Regions from separate parts of the Homo sapiens genome. Here region 2 is linked to region 1. The links come from fine-mapping of genetic effects on gene expression. Tissue or cell type: subcutaneous fat. Region 1 holds a variant in brackets; the other region holds the start of a gene. All regions are shown on one strand. Distances are between the middles of the regions.

Region 1 (8,105 bases):
CACTGTATCCTCTCCCTGGAACGCTCCTTCCTTCCCTTCTCCGCCTCACAAACTCTTACTCCTCCTGCAATACCCAAATGAAATGACCCATCTCTCTCACCACATGGTAACAGTGCTGTTGTGGCACTTTCCCAGCTTATAATATAATCACTTGTATTCATCGCTCCCATGGGAATCATGAGAATGGGGCCTGGGTCTGTCTCATTCTCTGTTGAATCCCAAATCCCTGCACAAAGCTTGGTATATGGTGGCTGCTGGGCGTGGGATAGGGTGGGCAGTGTAACAGGGGCACAGTAGATACCGGCTCTGGGATCTCTCGGACCTCTGCTGGGCAACTGGGCGATTCACTGCATCTGTCCATGGCTCCACCTTCTCATCTCTAAGGCAGAAATGATAACACTGGCACCTTCCTCGTGGAGATGTGAAGTTTCGATGCGTTAGCATCATAAAGCACTTGGTACAGCTTGGGGCACGCTGTCAGTGTTCACTGTTGTTACCAACACCTGAAAGCCCTTTGGAAACTGTAGGGAGACCCCATGACCAAGAGCCGATGGTGCCAGGGATGCTGAGGTGAATGGTTAACAGCAGGCCAGGACTCCTGCTCCAGGGTAGAAAGGCTGTGCTTCCTAGGAGTGGTAAGGCTGTTGGCCAGCACCCCCATCTTACAGATGAAGTAGCTGAGGCCCAGAGAGGATGCCCAAGTTAGCAAAACACAGTGGCAGAGGAGGGAGTCCTGCTGGTTGTGCTTTCTGAGGCCTGCTTATCTCATAGCCCCAGGCCCCCTGCACCACGTCTGGGTCTGGAGGAAGCTGCGGAAGCAGTACTCAAAACTAAGTCCCGCTGGTGGTGGTGACTCACGCCTATAATCCCAGCACTTTGGGAGGCCGAGGCTGGGTGGATCACCTGAGGTCAGGAGTTCGAGACCAGCCTGACCAACATGGAGAAACCCCATTTCTACTAAAAATACAAAATTAGCCAGGTGTGGTGGCAGGTGCCTGTAATCCCAGCTACTCGGGAAAGCTTTAGGCAGAAAAATTGCTTGAACCTGGGAGGCGGAGGTTGTGGTGAACTGAGATCCCACCACTGCACTCCAGCCTGGGCAACAAGAGCAAAACTCCATCTCAAAATAAAAACAGAAAAAAAAAAAAAAAAAACCTAAGTGCCGCAAGTACCACATGCAAATCTGTGATTGTCTATGAATATTCCGTGACTCTTTTGGGTCCTTTGTGGCCCTTCAGTCAGTCTGGAAAACACATTCATGTAGCTGTTCTGCAGGCTTAGGTAAGAAACATTTGCTGTTCTTTGTCTCCTTCTTTTAATGGCAAATATTTACCTTTTATATGTGCCACTTAACTTGGGAACTGTACACCCTGAAAATGCCAAATCTCTTGCGCCTCAAGATTCTACTTCAAATTAGAAAAAAAAAAAAAGAAATCTGGCCGGGTGTGGTGGGTCACGTCTGTAATCCCAACACTTTAAGAAGCTGAGGTGGGTGGATCACTTGAGGTCAGGAGTTTGAGATCAGCCTGGCCAGCATGGCGAAACCCTGTCTCTACTAAAAATACAAAAATTAGCCAGGCGCGGTGGTACATGCCTGTAATCCCAACTACTCAGGAGGCTGAGGCAGGAGAATGGCTTCAACCTGGGAGGGGGAGGTTGCAGTGAGCTGAGATCCCACCACCACACTCCAGCCTGGGTGACAGATTGAGATACTATCTCAAAAAAAAAAAAAGAAAAAAGAAAAAAAAATCTGTAGTTGGCACTCCCCAGTCCCATTTTCACCCCGCTTCTGCAGAAGGAATTCTTGTAGATTGAGGGAGTGATGAGAAATAATTTCTTGCTTGATAAAGCAAAACCCAGAACGGTAAGGTTGGGCCTGGAAAGAGAGGATTTCCCTGTGGGAAGAGAAACTGAGCTGTGTGGGAGGGGAACTCAGTGTGTGAGGATGAGCCTCTGTCTCCGAGCCTCTCCGTTGCTGCTGCCTGCTGTGCCCATGAGGGCAGCGGCTGCCTCTCCATGGACTCTTCAGAGTGTAGCTCTGGTCCTGGCCCTCATAGGCTCACAGCATGGCAGCAGCAAGGCTGGGATGTTCCAGTGATACTCCCCTGGAGGCCAGGGTGAGAGAGCAAAAGGAGACCAAACATGGGAAGGATCTAGAAGCTGGGGGATGTGGCTCACAAGGCGTAACTCCCTCTGGAACCTCCCTCATCATGGGTCCTCCCCCCAGCACCCGGCTCCCTTCCTCCATGCCCCACAGTGGTCTCTACAGGAAGTCTACACAGAGATTCTCCTCCAAGTCTGCATGTGGCCTCCAAACCTCCTTTTCTAAAATATGGGAACCCCTTTTATACATCAAGACATTTTGCCAACTACCGTCCACCCCATAGTAGCTATCATTGTAAAATTCATTGGTGGATAGTAATGACCAAATGCGAATATACATTCAACAGCAATTTTAAGTTTAATTTGTTTTCTAACAGTATCTACATATATTAGGAAAAATAATGGTGCATATATGTGGGTGATATATTATTTAGCCTGGGAATGGTGTTTGGGGGAGTGTATTGACTTCAGGTCCCCCTGCAGGACCCCGTGTCCCCACATCTGCTCAGCCCTGATGGGTGATAGAGTGGGCTGTGTTCTCCCCCTGTCTGTGCTGGGCACAGCTCTCCTTCCCAGGGGCTGACCTGAGAGCAGCCTCTCCTGGAAGGTGAGGCCCAGCCCCCGCCTCCTCCCCACCCCAATCCATCACCATTAGCCTGACCTTGCCACAGTGACGGGCCTGTTTCCTTACGCGGGGAGCTGGGGCCTGCTTTGACAGTGCCTAAACATCTGACAAATCTTTTCAGCCTGCTTTCCACCAATGATGTGGCACGTTGCTTTAGGGTTGTGTGCAAATGGATTCACTGTGAATATCTCTGAGGTTCCCATCATCTTCTGTAAGCATCTTAGATTTGTAGAATGGTCTTTCTCCCCTGTCCTCCACCTGCCATCTCTTTATCACTCCATCTTTTCTAAGTTGTTTTTTGTTTGTTTTTATTTTTTTCAGAAACAGGGTCTCACTATGTTGCCCAGGCTGGCCTTGAAGTCCTGGGCTCAGCCAATACTTCTGCCTCATCCTCCTGAGTAGCTGGGATTCCAGGCATGAGCCACCATGCCCAGCTCTTTTTCCAAGTTATTATGTAGAGCTCAGTGCAAATGCCGCCTCCCTAAGAGGCTGTCCCTGACCACCTGACTAGACAAGGCCCTGGCAACCCCCAGCTCCTCCTTACCTACTTGCCCTACTTTTGTCAATATCTGGCATTATTTATTTGTTCATCTGTTTGCTTGTCTCCCCAACTGGACTGGGAACTCCATGAGAACAGGGGCATCCCCAGTGACAAGAGAGAGCCTGGCCCTTAGCAGAGCTCAATAAATAGAAACACAAGAAGCATTCCTGGGATAACAAAGCCAGTTAGCTGCACAGCTGGGATTTGTCCCCAGGTCTCCCACCCACTTCCCACCATGCTCTTTCCAACATACCAGGTAAGGGGTAGAGCCATGATTTGAATGCCAGACTCCAAAGACAACCTGCTTATCACAGGCCTTACTGTATCCTCCAGTACAGCCTCCTGATGCTTGGCCTGTCTGCTAGAACGTGAGTTCAAGAGCTGCACTATCCAACATGGCAGCCACCAGCCATGTGTGGCCATTAAATTTAAATTAATTAGAGTTAAATAAAATTGAAAATTCACCTCTTCAATCACGTGAGTCCCACTTCAAGTGCTCAACAGCCACATGTTACCAGTGGCTACTGTACTGGACAGCACAGATGCAG[G/A]ACATTTCTGTCCTTGCAGACAGACAGGTCTATTGGACAGCATTGCTCCAGAGAGGAGGGACCTCAAATCTGTCTTGTTCACCATTTCCCTAGCACTTAGAACAGTGCTCAATTCATGCTTTTATTCAATGGATGAATTAGTTGATGCTGATGCTTCCGCTGAGAGCCTCCTGCTCTCCTCTGCTGCTGATGCTCTCTCCTTCTGCCCCTCAGGGAAGGATGAAGCCAGCAGTGTGGAGGTGACGTGGCCAGATGGCAAGATGGTGAGCCGGAACGTGGCCAGCGGGGAGATGAACTCAGTGCTGGAGATCCTCTACCCCCGGGATGAGGACACACTTCAGGACCCAGCCCCACTGGAGGTGGGCAAAGGCATCTGGGCCTCATAGCCAGAAAAGCGGGCACCACCCACAACCCCATGGGCTGAAGCTGGGTTCCCAGGAATCTGCAAACTCAGCCTCTAGAGTGATGGAAATCTTGGCAAAGCGAAGGCTTCATACTGATCCCTCCATTTGTAGTTTGCACAACACTATCACACCCACATCTCTTCTGCTTCTCAAAGAATCCCTGGTGTATTGGCAGGGCAAGCATTTTTGCACCCATTTTACAGAGGAAGAAAACTGAGGTTAAGAGAGGAAATCCACCAAGGCCCACCAAGGCTGTACAGCCAGTTGTGAGCAAAGTTTTAAAATGACCCCAGGTCTGTTGCTGCCCTCCTGGTTCTTTCTGAGTCTCTGACAAGACCTCCTATTGCCCTAGGGTGGGGCTCAGAGCCTGCACCAGGTTTTCTGGAGGCTCTTTGAGGAGCAGCTCTGGACCCATCTCAGCAGTGTCGTTCCAACTCTGATGGGGTTCACTTGGTGGCGATTAACAGGAACCCACTGAAACTGACACAAATGAAGGGGGCTTATAAGGAGGATCACTCATAAAACTCAGGGAAGCTCAGGATGAGTAGAAACTGGCAGCTTGATGGCCTCAGCCCTAGGAGCTCAAGGACCTTTGTCAGTGCACTGGCTTTGGGAGGAGAGGGGCCCCTCTTCCCCAACAATCCCCATCCACCCACCTCATTCATCAGTACGGTTGATTGACATTTTGTGTCATGTGTGTTACGTTTTTAGTCCCCTGCCCCACCCCAGGCTGCTGTCTCTGAGACCCCCATATGGGCATGGTAGAGCCTCCACAGCCTGGCAGGGCCGGCTCCCAACTCTTAAGTCTCTGAGTCAATTTGTTCAAATTCTTGCTGCAAAGCCTTGAGTCTTCCCTCCTGCTAGGATGTCCACCCATCAGCCCTGGCCAGAGAGGTGGGACACAAGCATGGCTGCAGGCACCCACCCGTGTGAGGGAGAGGTTCTTGGAGAAGTGAATGTGGGCAGTGAGCAGACACCTCAAAAAGCATCTCCCAGCCCTCATTACACTTTGCCCTGACAGACCCAGCCTCAGTCACAGGGTGATGCTACAGAAGGGACAGGTTCTGTTAGACGTCCCAGCTCGTGTGGATCCTTTGCACAGGGAAATGAGCAAGAGTCTGAACCGTATCCATTCATGGCCTTCCCGCCAGCCTTCTGTTCTCAGCGCAAAGGAAGGGTCTTACAAGGGAGGGGGCTCCCCCCAGGCCCAGAGCTCAGAGCATGCCTCACACTGTGGTTAGGGTGACAACTACTCTGTGGCTGTGACTAGGAGGGAACCTGGGATGGGACCTTCTCAACTCACTCATGTCTCTGCTTCTGCCCACCTTACAGTGTGGCCAAGGATTCTCCCAGCAGGAAAATGGCCATTGCATGGGTGAGTTGCCTTCAGTCACCAGGGCATGGGGTAGAGGCCGGAATCTCCCTGGGGAATGCCCGCCTGACTCATGCCAAGGTCCAGGGTGCAAGCAAGGGGCAGAAAGGAGGACAGGGGAGGGTGTTGTTTGTCCTGGGACTCCAGATGCCAAGACAACCACCACATGACTCACCAGGGTGGGAGTGATATTAGTGACCCACAGGCTGAATCACTGCGGTTCTGGAAACTGGCAGTGTTTTCCTGCCATGAGTACCGAGAAACTGCAGATGGGAAGGAGACACACCACCAACCTGGCACAGGGGGAATAGCCACATGCCATGGCCAGCAAGTCCATGTGGAGCAGCAAGCAAGGGGGCTGGCAGGCAAGGGTGTGCATTGCCAAGGGCATTGGGGCAAAATAGTGTATGGAGTGTGGTCACAGTGTGGAACGGAGACTGCAGCCTGGTGCAGTACTGGGGCAGGCAGGTAGCTGCAGCACTACCAGGATGGCAGCTCCTTGACGGTCCAAGAACCTTCTGAAAGTCCCCAAGAGCCTGGAATGGGAAGGGGCAGCCTAGAAGTTCAGTGTCCAGGAGACCTTCACCCCCAACACTTTCCATCCCAGTGACCAGCAAGGAGGGGTCAGGCCAAGGATCCCTCCTTCCTTGAACCCTCATCCAGCATTCTTCCCAAGTCTACTCTGCAGCTGCTCATTAACCCTTTGCTACTGAGATACAGGAGTAAACAAGACAGATACCACTCTCAGGAGCTGAAAACCAATGGAGAGCCACAAAAGTAAACAGCTGTCGACCACACAGTGTGATCAGGGCCCAGATGGGGGAGGGCAGGGGCTTGGAGATGACAAAGCAGGGGCCCTAAACCAGCCTAGGGAGGGTCCTAGAAGGTGCCCTAGAGAAAGTGAGGTCCAAGCTGGGCCCTGAGGAATGAGGAGCAGTTCGGCAGTCACAGAGAGGGGAGACATGGTTCTGGTGGGGGGCACTGTCTGAACAAAGGAGCACAGGTGGGGAGGTGGAGGAGCAGTGGTGCCAAGGGTGGCTGGAGGAGGAAATGACTCCCCTACACTCTCCACATGCCCACCCAGCCCCACTCCAAACACATAGTGCAGGTGCATAGAAATTCCAGAGTCTTCTCTGCCTGCAGGAAGGACCCTTTGAGATCAGCCTCCTCTTCCTTTTCATCGCCCAACAGGCAGTTATGTGCCTCGTACACAGCAAGTGTCATGCTGGGAGCTGGGGATGTAGGCCAAGTGCCACCCCCGCGCCTCCACAAGAGGGGCATCCATTCTAGTGGAGGGAGACAGACCCTGAACGCATGACCACACACCTGGACAAGATGATTTCAGAACCCTCTGAGCAAGGTGCTCCCTGGAGACTGTTCCAGAGAGAGTGGTCAGGGAGGGCCTCGGGGGGAAGACTCTGAGCTGAGACCTGAAGGATGAGAAGGATCTAGGCCCAGAAAGAGTTGAGGGAAGGGCAGGAGTGAAAAGCGGGAGACAGGACAAAGGCTTTGTGTGTTGAAGGAGCAGGAGGGATGCCAGTATGGCCTGGAGATGATGGAGAGTCCATGAGGCCCCTGTAGGGAGTCTGAATTTTGCTCTTAGGAGCCTTAGAAGCTAAACTGGGGAGTGACATGATGTGATTCACATTTTTAAAGGCTCCCTCCAGCTGCTGAATTGCAGAGTGGATTGGAGGGAAGAGGGGAAGCCAGGTATTCTGTGAGGAGGCAGCTGCAGAAATCCAGGCAAGAGGTCACGATGGCAGGAAATTGGGTGGTGGCAGAGGAATGAGAAAGAGGTGACAGAGAGAGGTGGACTGGTGGACTGCGGGGCAGAGTGGACAGGCTCTGCTGTGAAATTGCACAGGGGGCAAGAAAGACGGAGAAATCAGGGGTCGCTCTGATTTCCCCTTGAGCAGCTGATTGATGATGGGGGTGTTGATTGAGCTAGAGAAGACAGAACAGAGGGCCAGAATATGGGCAGGGCAGGGCAGAATCTGGAGTTCTATTTTGGACATATTAAGCATGAGGTGCATCTTAGACATCCAAGTGGAGCTGTCAAGTAGGTCATGGGTTATTGTATTCGTGAGTCTGGAGCCACGGGGAGAGGTTGTGACTGGAGATAGAACTTTCGGAATCATCCATGCATGAAGAGATCACCTAGAACGATTGTAGTAGACAGAAGAGAGGACCCAGGACCAAGCCTGAGTGCCCACCCCCTGCCCCCAGCATGTAGAGACCAAGTACAGGAGGAGCCAGCCAAGGGAACTGAAGCAGGGAAACTGAGGCTCTGCGAGGAAGGCACATTCCCAAAGCCAGACAGTGTATAGGCAGGCAGAGCCTGGGCTGGTACTTGCTGCCCCACACCTTCATGGTGAGTGGTTCCCCTCGCCTTGCAGACACCAATGAATGCATCCAGTTCCCATTCGTGTGCCCTCGAGACAAGCCCGTATGTGTCAACACCTATGGAAGCTACAGGTGCCGGACCAACAAGAAGTGCAGTCGGGGCTACGAG
Region 2 (8,105 bases), 150 kb before region 1:
CACCTGCTTGCATCGTTACCTCCAGGCTTCCCCCTGCCCCACAGCCTCGAAAGTTTCTAACCAGACTTCCCCAGGATTCCATCATGTCCTCCTTCTTCCAGCATCCCTTTCCTGGGGCTGCTCTGCCTGCAGAGTTTCCCTGCAGCATGCGCTCACAGCTCAAGGTCTTCTGAACAAACTCTCTGGCCATCTGGAAGACTCCTTTCTGCATCTGTGATGGCTCTGGCTCTGGCCCTGACTGAACCATCCCCCAGGGTTTGTGGCTTCTCTAAAAGAGTTCCTGTCCAACTTTACCCCTAACCTACCTCCCCTTGAAAGTCCATCCTATGCATCTGCCTCTTACAAGCCACAAGTGCATCTGAAACCCAACGGCCATGTGATAAATGTGTACTCCTTGGGAAAAAGGGACGACCCCTCCATACGACTTGGTTTGAGAAGGGGTTATTTCCTCATACCCCCTTTAGCTCCTCATTTCTTTCACAGTTTGTGGTTTCCCATTTTCAACTATTGCTGTTTTTCCACCCCCTTACAAAAAGATTCATTTCTTTTGAGACAACCAAGCCTAAAATACACAATCCCTTATCTACAATTCCAAATCCCCAAATCTCTGAAAGTCAAAAGGATTTTTGTTTTGCAAGTTTGATGCCAAGACTCATCTGGTAGCAAAATCTGACCTAAACTGATGTGAAGTTACTTTATCCTCACACCTGCTTAGTGTAAACTTCATATATTTCATTGCAGAAATATTAATGTGTCTGATTTCAATATGCTGCTCAAAGCTTCACTGAGAATGTTTATGTATGGTGCCTTTCTGAATTCTAAAATGCCTCTGGCCTCAAGGGCTTCAGATAAGGGTGTGAGGAACTGTACCAGCCTCTCTGTTCTCCTGTGACAGAACTCTTGGGACAGAAGCATCTCTAAGATCTGGTGTCTTGACTTCTCACCCGGAGAGAGAGAAGATAGCCAAGTAATCTTCTAATGTAGAGAGAGAATTAACAAAGTCATTTGTCAATGAAAGGACATGGGGTCTGGAGGTTGTCTTCAGTGTTTCCTACAGTTTTTGTCCTGTCCTTAACTTGTTGCATGACTGTTAGCAACTTGCGTAAAGTCCAACCTCTCTGATCCTGGACTTTAGAAGAAAACTAGCTCCTGAGAACTCCTGCTCCAGTGATGTTGATGATGACTAACACACACAATACATCTTGAGTTTTTAGAAAATGAAGTACTGTACAGCTTTAATAGTATTTTTAAGTAAATAGGTTTAATTGGAATAACTCAGCAAATATCTAATGTGTGTTCACTCTGTGCCCAGTTTCATGCTGGGTTCTGTGAGGTAGTCAACTGCAAGGTACAAACTCTGGACTTCAAGGGGCTCATATTCTGATAGGGAGGCCAAGTATCACTGAGTGAAAAAAAGCTAATGTGCATCACAGGTGATAAGATGGTGTAGACCTGCAGGAGAGCTGAAAACTGCTGGCCAGGGCAGTTTTGGAAGGTGGCGCAGGAAGGAAGACTTGGTTTGGGTATGAACAGATGAGAAAACAATTTAAGCACGTTCCCCAGGTAAGAATGAAGAAGTCTGTGGGGGAACACTCTGAAGAAAAAACAACTTCACTGGGGTCAAAGGACTGGAGCCTGAACAAGATGCATGGGGTAAGGGTGTGCTGAAAATGTGTGTATTAGTCAGCTCAGACTGCCATAGCCAATACCACAGACGTGGAGCTTAACCACAGAAGTTAATGTTCTCACAGTTCTGGAGCCTGGAAGTCCCAGATCAAGGTGCTGGCAGGTCTGGTTTCTGCAGAGGCCCTGCTCCTGGCTTGCAGATGGCCTCCTCCTGTTACTCAGGCAGGCTTTCTCCTGAGGATGCACAGAGAGAAATGGGAGATCTCTGGTATCTCTCTCTCTTCTTACGAGGACACTAGTCCTATTGAATTAGGGTCCACCCTTATGATCTCATTTTGCCTTAATTGCCCCTTTAAAGGCCTTATCTCCAAATGCAGTCACACTAAGGGTTAGGGCTTCACTATGTGAATTTGGTCCGGAGAGGCACAATTCAGTCTATAACCGTGTGCATGTGCCTCAAGAAAGCTGTGTTTGGGCAATGTGGGAGGACAAGAGGTCTCTCACGGGATTGGGGGTGGGGAAGGGCTGGAGCTCTGAGCAGACACTGACATGAACTGAGCAAATGGACATCGAGGACATCAGAGAAATGAGAAATTTTCCAACCAGGACTGCCTGGCCCACTGGGCTAAACCCTCACAAGTTCAAGTGCTGAAGCCAGATTGTATTCCCTGGAGCACTTCCTGGCTGGAACATCTCCATCATTTCCTGCATTTTTCTGTCCTTCCCTAGCACCTTTGGTCTGTTGTAACCTTACCTGGCTAGCTGCAGGAAAGTGTGAGATTATTACAGAGTTATTTTGCACAGAGCACCTATTCACATCTGGTTGGCTAATGCTGATAATTACCGTGCTGGTTACTAAATCTGTCGGGTCTGGGTGAGGTGAGGCGCTACAGCTGGGGCTGCTGTGCACAGCTTCACCGGAGAAGAGAGAGGTGAGAACAAAAACCAAGAAAGGTGTGCTCAGATGTTTGGGATTGAGTGAAACTGGTTAATTACCAGTCACTTGCTGTCTCCCTGAGTTGGAGTTTCTGGCTAAGGAATGCTCATAGATCAGACATAATATGACAACCTGCAACTTATTTCCACATTAAGAGGGTGGCGGGGACCAAGATGCAGAGAAAGTGTGGAGACAGTCTCTCAGGTGCCAGAGCCTTGGCCAGATGACTCAGATGCCCTCAGAACAAGGTGGTGGCATGTTCCAGCAGGGTGCAGAGCCAACTGGACTCCTTATGCAGAGAGCTGGGGATCAGATATGGCCTTGGGGGCAGAGTCTATTTGCCGATAGATGAAGGTTCTTAATCAGGGCCCTAGATTAAGTTTTAATGATCCACGAACCCTCCTAAAGTTGCATGTCAACATGTGTGTATGTGAGTGAGCATTTTTATAAGCAACAGATCCATAACATTTATGAGATTCTTGAAAGGTTCTAAAGGGTCTGTGATCCCCAAAAGGAGGGTGATTATAAACTACTGTCCTAGACCCCTGAAGAAACAGGTTGACATTGGACCGAGCCCCAAGAGACTCAGGGTTCCTAATGATCCTGAAAGTATACTCAAGGTGTGTGTGTGTGTGTGTGTGTGTGTGTGTGTGTGTGTGTGTGTAAATGTGTGTGTTTGTATATTTTTCTAGAAAAATGATTCAGTAATTTTTGCCAGATTTTCAAAGGGGCCCACAACCTTACAGGCTTGATGGGGGCTCAAAAAGCCAGAAAGTTTGTCTGTGCCTAGCTATTTCTTTTCAGAGGAAGATCACAGAGACCTGAAAACAGAGCCCAGACTAGGTCCTGGTAGTTCTGCTCAAAATCTGTGGATAACAGGGGCCAGAGGCTGGATGTGTGGCCCTCTATAAAAGAACACATTCAAATCATTCTAAGAGTCAAGGGCCCAGAAGCCAGACTAGTGGGTGATGGTCACAAAAGCGTCAACGGATGGGAAAACAGTCCTAGCTCCTTCCCTCTCCGATGGTGGATTCCCAAGTCTTTCTCTTCTGTGGCCCCTTTACCTGGCTTTCAGAAACCCAAAGACCTCACTCATGGAAGCTCAGAATTCATTCAATAAACACTGAGCGCCTACTATGTGCCAGGCTCTATTCTAGGCGTAAAATAAAGGATTTGCCTTCAGAGTGTGACCCACCAAGGCCAGTTTCCTGCCTGAACAGGGGTATTTTGAGCATTGCTGATCAAGTGTGTTTTTCTGGCGCTTAGCACCCCCATTCCCCTGGTCCAGAGAGGCAGAAACCATCCCCCCACCACCACCAAGGCAGCGGGTTGGGGGCGAGGAGAGGCGGGCAGTACCTGTGATCAAAGCGGTGAGGGAGGCTAGTAGGACGCAGGCGGCAGGAGCGGGTGGGCCAGGCCCGACTCGGCCACTGCTGGGGTAGGGACTAGGTGGGATGGGGTGGGGGCACTGCTGGTGGGGACGGGGTGGGGTAGAAGCGGCGCTGCCCGCAGCCGCCTGGGCCTCTGCGCGCCTGATCTCCGAGCTGCGCTCGCCCGCTCCCCGCCTGCGGGGGCCGTCGCGGAGCCCTGCTCTCCATACTGAGCAGTCCCCGGGAGGTGCTCGGACACGTCCCCAGGCTGGATAAAGATCGGCTCGGCTCTAGCTCCGTAGTCGAAATCTCGCCATCAGCGCGGCTCGCTCGGCCGCTTTGGCCCGGCCCGGCGACGCCAGATCGCTATCCTGGGGGGAAATGGGAAGGCAGTGCAGCCGCTCCCGCCTCCACCCTCGGTCCTGCGCGCAGGGGTGGCCGCGGGGTCCTGGGGCTCGCCGCCCTCCCCTCCCCCTTCGCGTTCCTTCCCTGCGCTGCCTCCCGAGGGACCCTCGCTTCCCTCCGGCCTGGGGCCCCCAGCGCCCAGCCAGGCGCCCTCTCCCCTCCTCGCCAGGCCTCGCTGCCGCCTGAAGGTTACGCGACGCAGTGGCGGGGCGCGGGGGGCGCCCGCCCTCGCCGCCGCCTTCGCCGCCGCCCACCCCAGTGGCCGCCGCGCCGCGCCGGGCCAGCCTGGCTGCCGGCTGCTGCCACCGCAATCCCGGCTCCTAAATCAGCGCGGGGAGGCGCTCCCTCCCCACGCCCGGCTCTCCGGGCTCTCGGGGCCGCGATTGGCCGCGCCGGCGCCCCCCACCCCGGGCCCCCGGCTCCAGCTGCCGCGCCATTGGCTGCGGGCCTCCGCCAGCCTTTACATAAGACCGGGCGCGCTCGAGTGGAGTTGTATAAAGCGAGCGCGCGGCGTCGGGGCGGGAGGCTCGAGGCCAGCCCGGGACCGGGGCTGGGAGCAAGCAGGCGGCGGCGCCGGCGGCAGAGGCGGCAGCGAGCGCCCGCTTCCCACGCCCCTAGGCGGCGGGGCCGAGAGCGGGAGGATGGCTCCGAGCGCTGACCCCGGCGTGAGTATCTGCACCGGTGCCCCCCACCCTAAGGCGGAGAAAGTTTCTCCAGCTCTGCGCGCCCCCCCGGATCCGCCCGCAAGGGTGGCGGGGACGCCGCCCGGGAACCCGGGAAGACTGGGATCGCGAAGGCGGCGGCTTCGCTCCTAACTTGCTGGGAGGCGCTGGACTCGATTGGCGCGCGGAGCCTCCCCCGCGGGCTGGGGGTGAGGCGGCGGCCGGGTTGGAGGTGGCGGAGAGGTGGGAGCTGATGTGTGGGGGCGACAGCCAGCAGCTGGCAGAGAAAGTGTTGGGGGCGCACTGGAGGTCAGCTGTCAGGGGAGGGGGCCTCTGGGGCCTGGAGGGGGCGGAGCGGGTGAGGAGGGATGTGCCGGGCTATCGGGAGAGTCTCCCAGTCAGCCAGGCTGAGACCCGGGCCTGGGAAGCCACTGGCCTCGGCCGAGTGCCTACGCTTCCAGGCTGGGGAAGAGCCCCGCGGGCTGGCTCTTCCTCCCCTGGGAAGCCGAGTTCCCGGGCACAGCGCTGGGTGGCAGAGAGCTCCGGGAGCCAGCCCCGCGCGCGGCGTAGCTGCTAGCCGCCTTATGCTGGACGAGGTGTGGTCTTCCCTTCAGGCTGCCTGAGGCAAGCCGGCTTCAGGCATTCCAGGGGAACCCTGAGTCCTCCTCGACCCCGTGGGGGCACTTGGAGGCTTTGATGGGGCAGCCAGGCCGGGCTTGGGGGCATGCCCAGCAATGCAGCGCGCTTCTTTGCAGTACAGTAGTTGGGAGCCCTGGTTAGTCCCGCTTCTGCAGAAAGCAACTCAAGAATCCAAAGTCATCCCAGCCTGGATGGAAGCCTCCCAGAGTGGCGGGGAAATTCTCCTAGGGTTGAGAGCTGGGGGGGCTTCCTCCAGGAATGACTAATGAATATTGCTGCTGCTGCCGCCGCCGCCGCCGCCGCCGCCGCCGCCGCCGCCGCTGCTGCTGCTGGTGGGTGCACCCAGTGTGGCTTCTGCACATCCCAGGAGATGCTTCCGTTCTCCTGACAGGACACATTCTTGAGTTGCACTTGAGGTGTCTTCTGGGATGGGTGCAGGACTTTCCACGTGAAGCCAAGTGGAAAAGAAGGGAAGAGGGTCCCAGGACAGGGGACAGTTCTATAGTGTTTTCTTGAGTCAGGGGAGAACTCATGTGGGAAGAGATAAGCGATTGACGGAGATTTGGAACCCAGACGACTTGGGGCTGGAGATGTCCAAGACTGAATTAGAGCTCATTGAGAGTCACAGAGTACCTCACCCTCAGCCATGGGGGAGAGGTGGAGGCTGGAAAAGTGGGAACATGGTGGCTGTTCCAGCATGGTTCTTGAGAAAATGTTCTCTCTCTCTCTCTGACTTGGTTAAGAACATCCTTCTGGCAGTAGGTCCTAAAGTCAATTTAAGAGGTAATGAAGGGAGTTGAGGGTCTTGATGATGGCACAGAGGACCACAATTAGAACATTTCCATTTCCGGTGGGTACTAATGGACTCTGGAAAAGGTCGAAACGGTGTGTAGGGAGTCTGGGGAACCTGCTCTGTGGCTGCTCATTTGAGCCTGAATCCTCCACCTTATCCCATCCCTGAATGTAGGTGGATGTTCAAACTCCTAGGGTACCTGCTTCAGCCTGGAGATATTTTATGGGTGCTATCAATCTATATCCCAACCCCCAGCTCCATCGTTGTCTGCTGCAGTCAACATTTTTCTGCTGCATTTCCCAAGACCTTCTCTCCACTGGGGATTTGTGCAGCGAAATACCTGCTTGTTGCTCTTTCTTCCCTTCTCCATCTGGGCTGCACCTGGTGTTCTGAACCCTGGTGTTTATTCCTTGGTACCTTGATGTTTGGTTAAGACGTCCTATGGCTGCGCAGGGGTGCCCCTGTAAATCTGTGGACCAATGGCCTGTGTAATTCTAGGGAGTGCAATAGACTTCTATAGAAAGAATACCACCAACCGGGAAGGCAGTCCTACTAAACAGCTTGTGACAGCCTCTCATGCTCAAGCGCTCCCTTGCTTCCGTGCTGAGGCGGTGGAAGCCTAAAGGTGGAGCAGACTCCTTGGTGTCCAGTAGGGGGCGCCAAAGGTACCTGGCTCAGGACCACTGACTTTCTCACTTCTTGCCCTTTACTGGCTGTAGCAACTTAATGCTTTAAGGCAGCTCAGGCTACAGCCTTCAACCACCACCATCGTACTTGGAATCCTTCTACCACATGCTTCCTGGGCTTCAGGTGGTCCTGTGACCTCGGGTGCTATGGGGCAGGTGCAAGCACAACATTCCAAGGAGACAGAGCTGGTACACAGCCCCACCCTCTCTCGGGGATCATTCCTTTGTGCTTGGTGCCGCTGTGTTCTTTGAACTCTTTAAGGGTTCATGGAGTTCCAGAACATTAGAGCCAGAAGCAAGGAGCCTTGGAGAGCATCTCATCCAACCCCATTCCATCCCAACACTCACATGCACATTTAATTTACAGATGAGAAAACTGAAGCTGGATAAAGCCAAGGTCACATGGCTATTTGGTGGAAGACATGGAACTAGGCCCTAGGATTCCCACTGCTCGATTCAGAGCTGTTTCCACTCCAGCGGCCTGCTTCCTCTTCACTATAAAGATGGACATACTTTCTCTATACAGTAGGCACTCATAGTTATTGACTGACCAGGCTTTGGTAAATTAATACATCCCATACAGTTGGGGAGATTCTATTTTGAATCTGTTTTTCAGAGTGAGGAGGTGAGGAGAAAATACAGTTCTTGTCATGGACATACACAGGTCATAGAAATTCCTAATTATTCTTTCCCTGCCTCTACAATCTCGTCTCATTATTCCAAGTGGTGTTTTAAGCAAAAGCCATGCAAGTCCAGGTTTCAGTCTGTGCATTTAGGAGTCAGAAGTGCCGAGTCCCTCACTGTGGTCTTGGAACCCAGGTCTGGAGCGCCAAGGAATGTTGGCGTGGGGTCTCTCTGCTTGCAGTCACACCACTGCTGGTGAGACCTCCCAGATTCAGATTATAGATGGATTGGAGAGTTTCCAAAGAGTATTTGCCTATTTCCCCCACCCTTGCTGCTCCCAGCTCAAGGTCAGAGTGCTAGGAC

Evidence for each region. PIP is the estimated chance that this variant, and not a neighbour inherited with it, causes the effect.
Region 2: CRTAC1 starts here. The variant in region 1 is fine-mapped to the expression of CRTAC1 in subcutaneous fat (GTEx, PIP 0.98).

Annotation. Positions count from the first base shown.
Region 1 is chr10:97,880,277-97,888,381 of GRCh38, reverse strand. CRTAC1 (cartilage acidic protein 1) reads left to right here. Exons shown (of 15, transcript NM_018058.7): 12 at 4,031-4,176; 13 at 5,554-5,596; 14 at 7,990-8,105. Among named protein-coding and RNA genes, the nearest start is that of MIR3085, 8.4 kb to the right of the region's middle. RefSeq lists enhancers at 1-182, 5,179-6,378 and a silencer at 5,596-5,890. The variant G/A (reference allele first, on the strand shown) is at 3,818.
Region 2 is chr10:98,027,347-98,035,451 of GRCh38, reverse strand. It overlaps CRTAC1 (cartilage acidic protein 1), which reads left to right and starts at 4,831. Exons shown (of 15, transcript NM_018058.7): 1 at 4,831-5,003. The coding sequence starts at 4,980.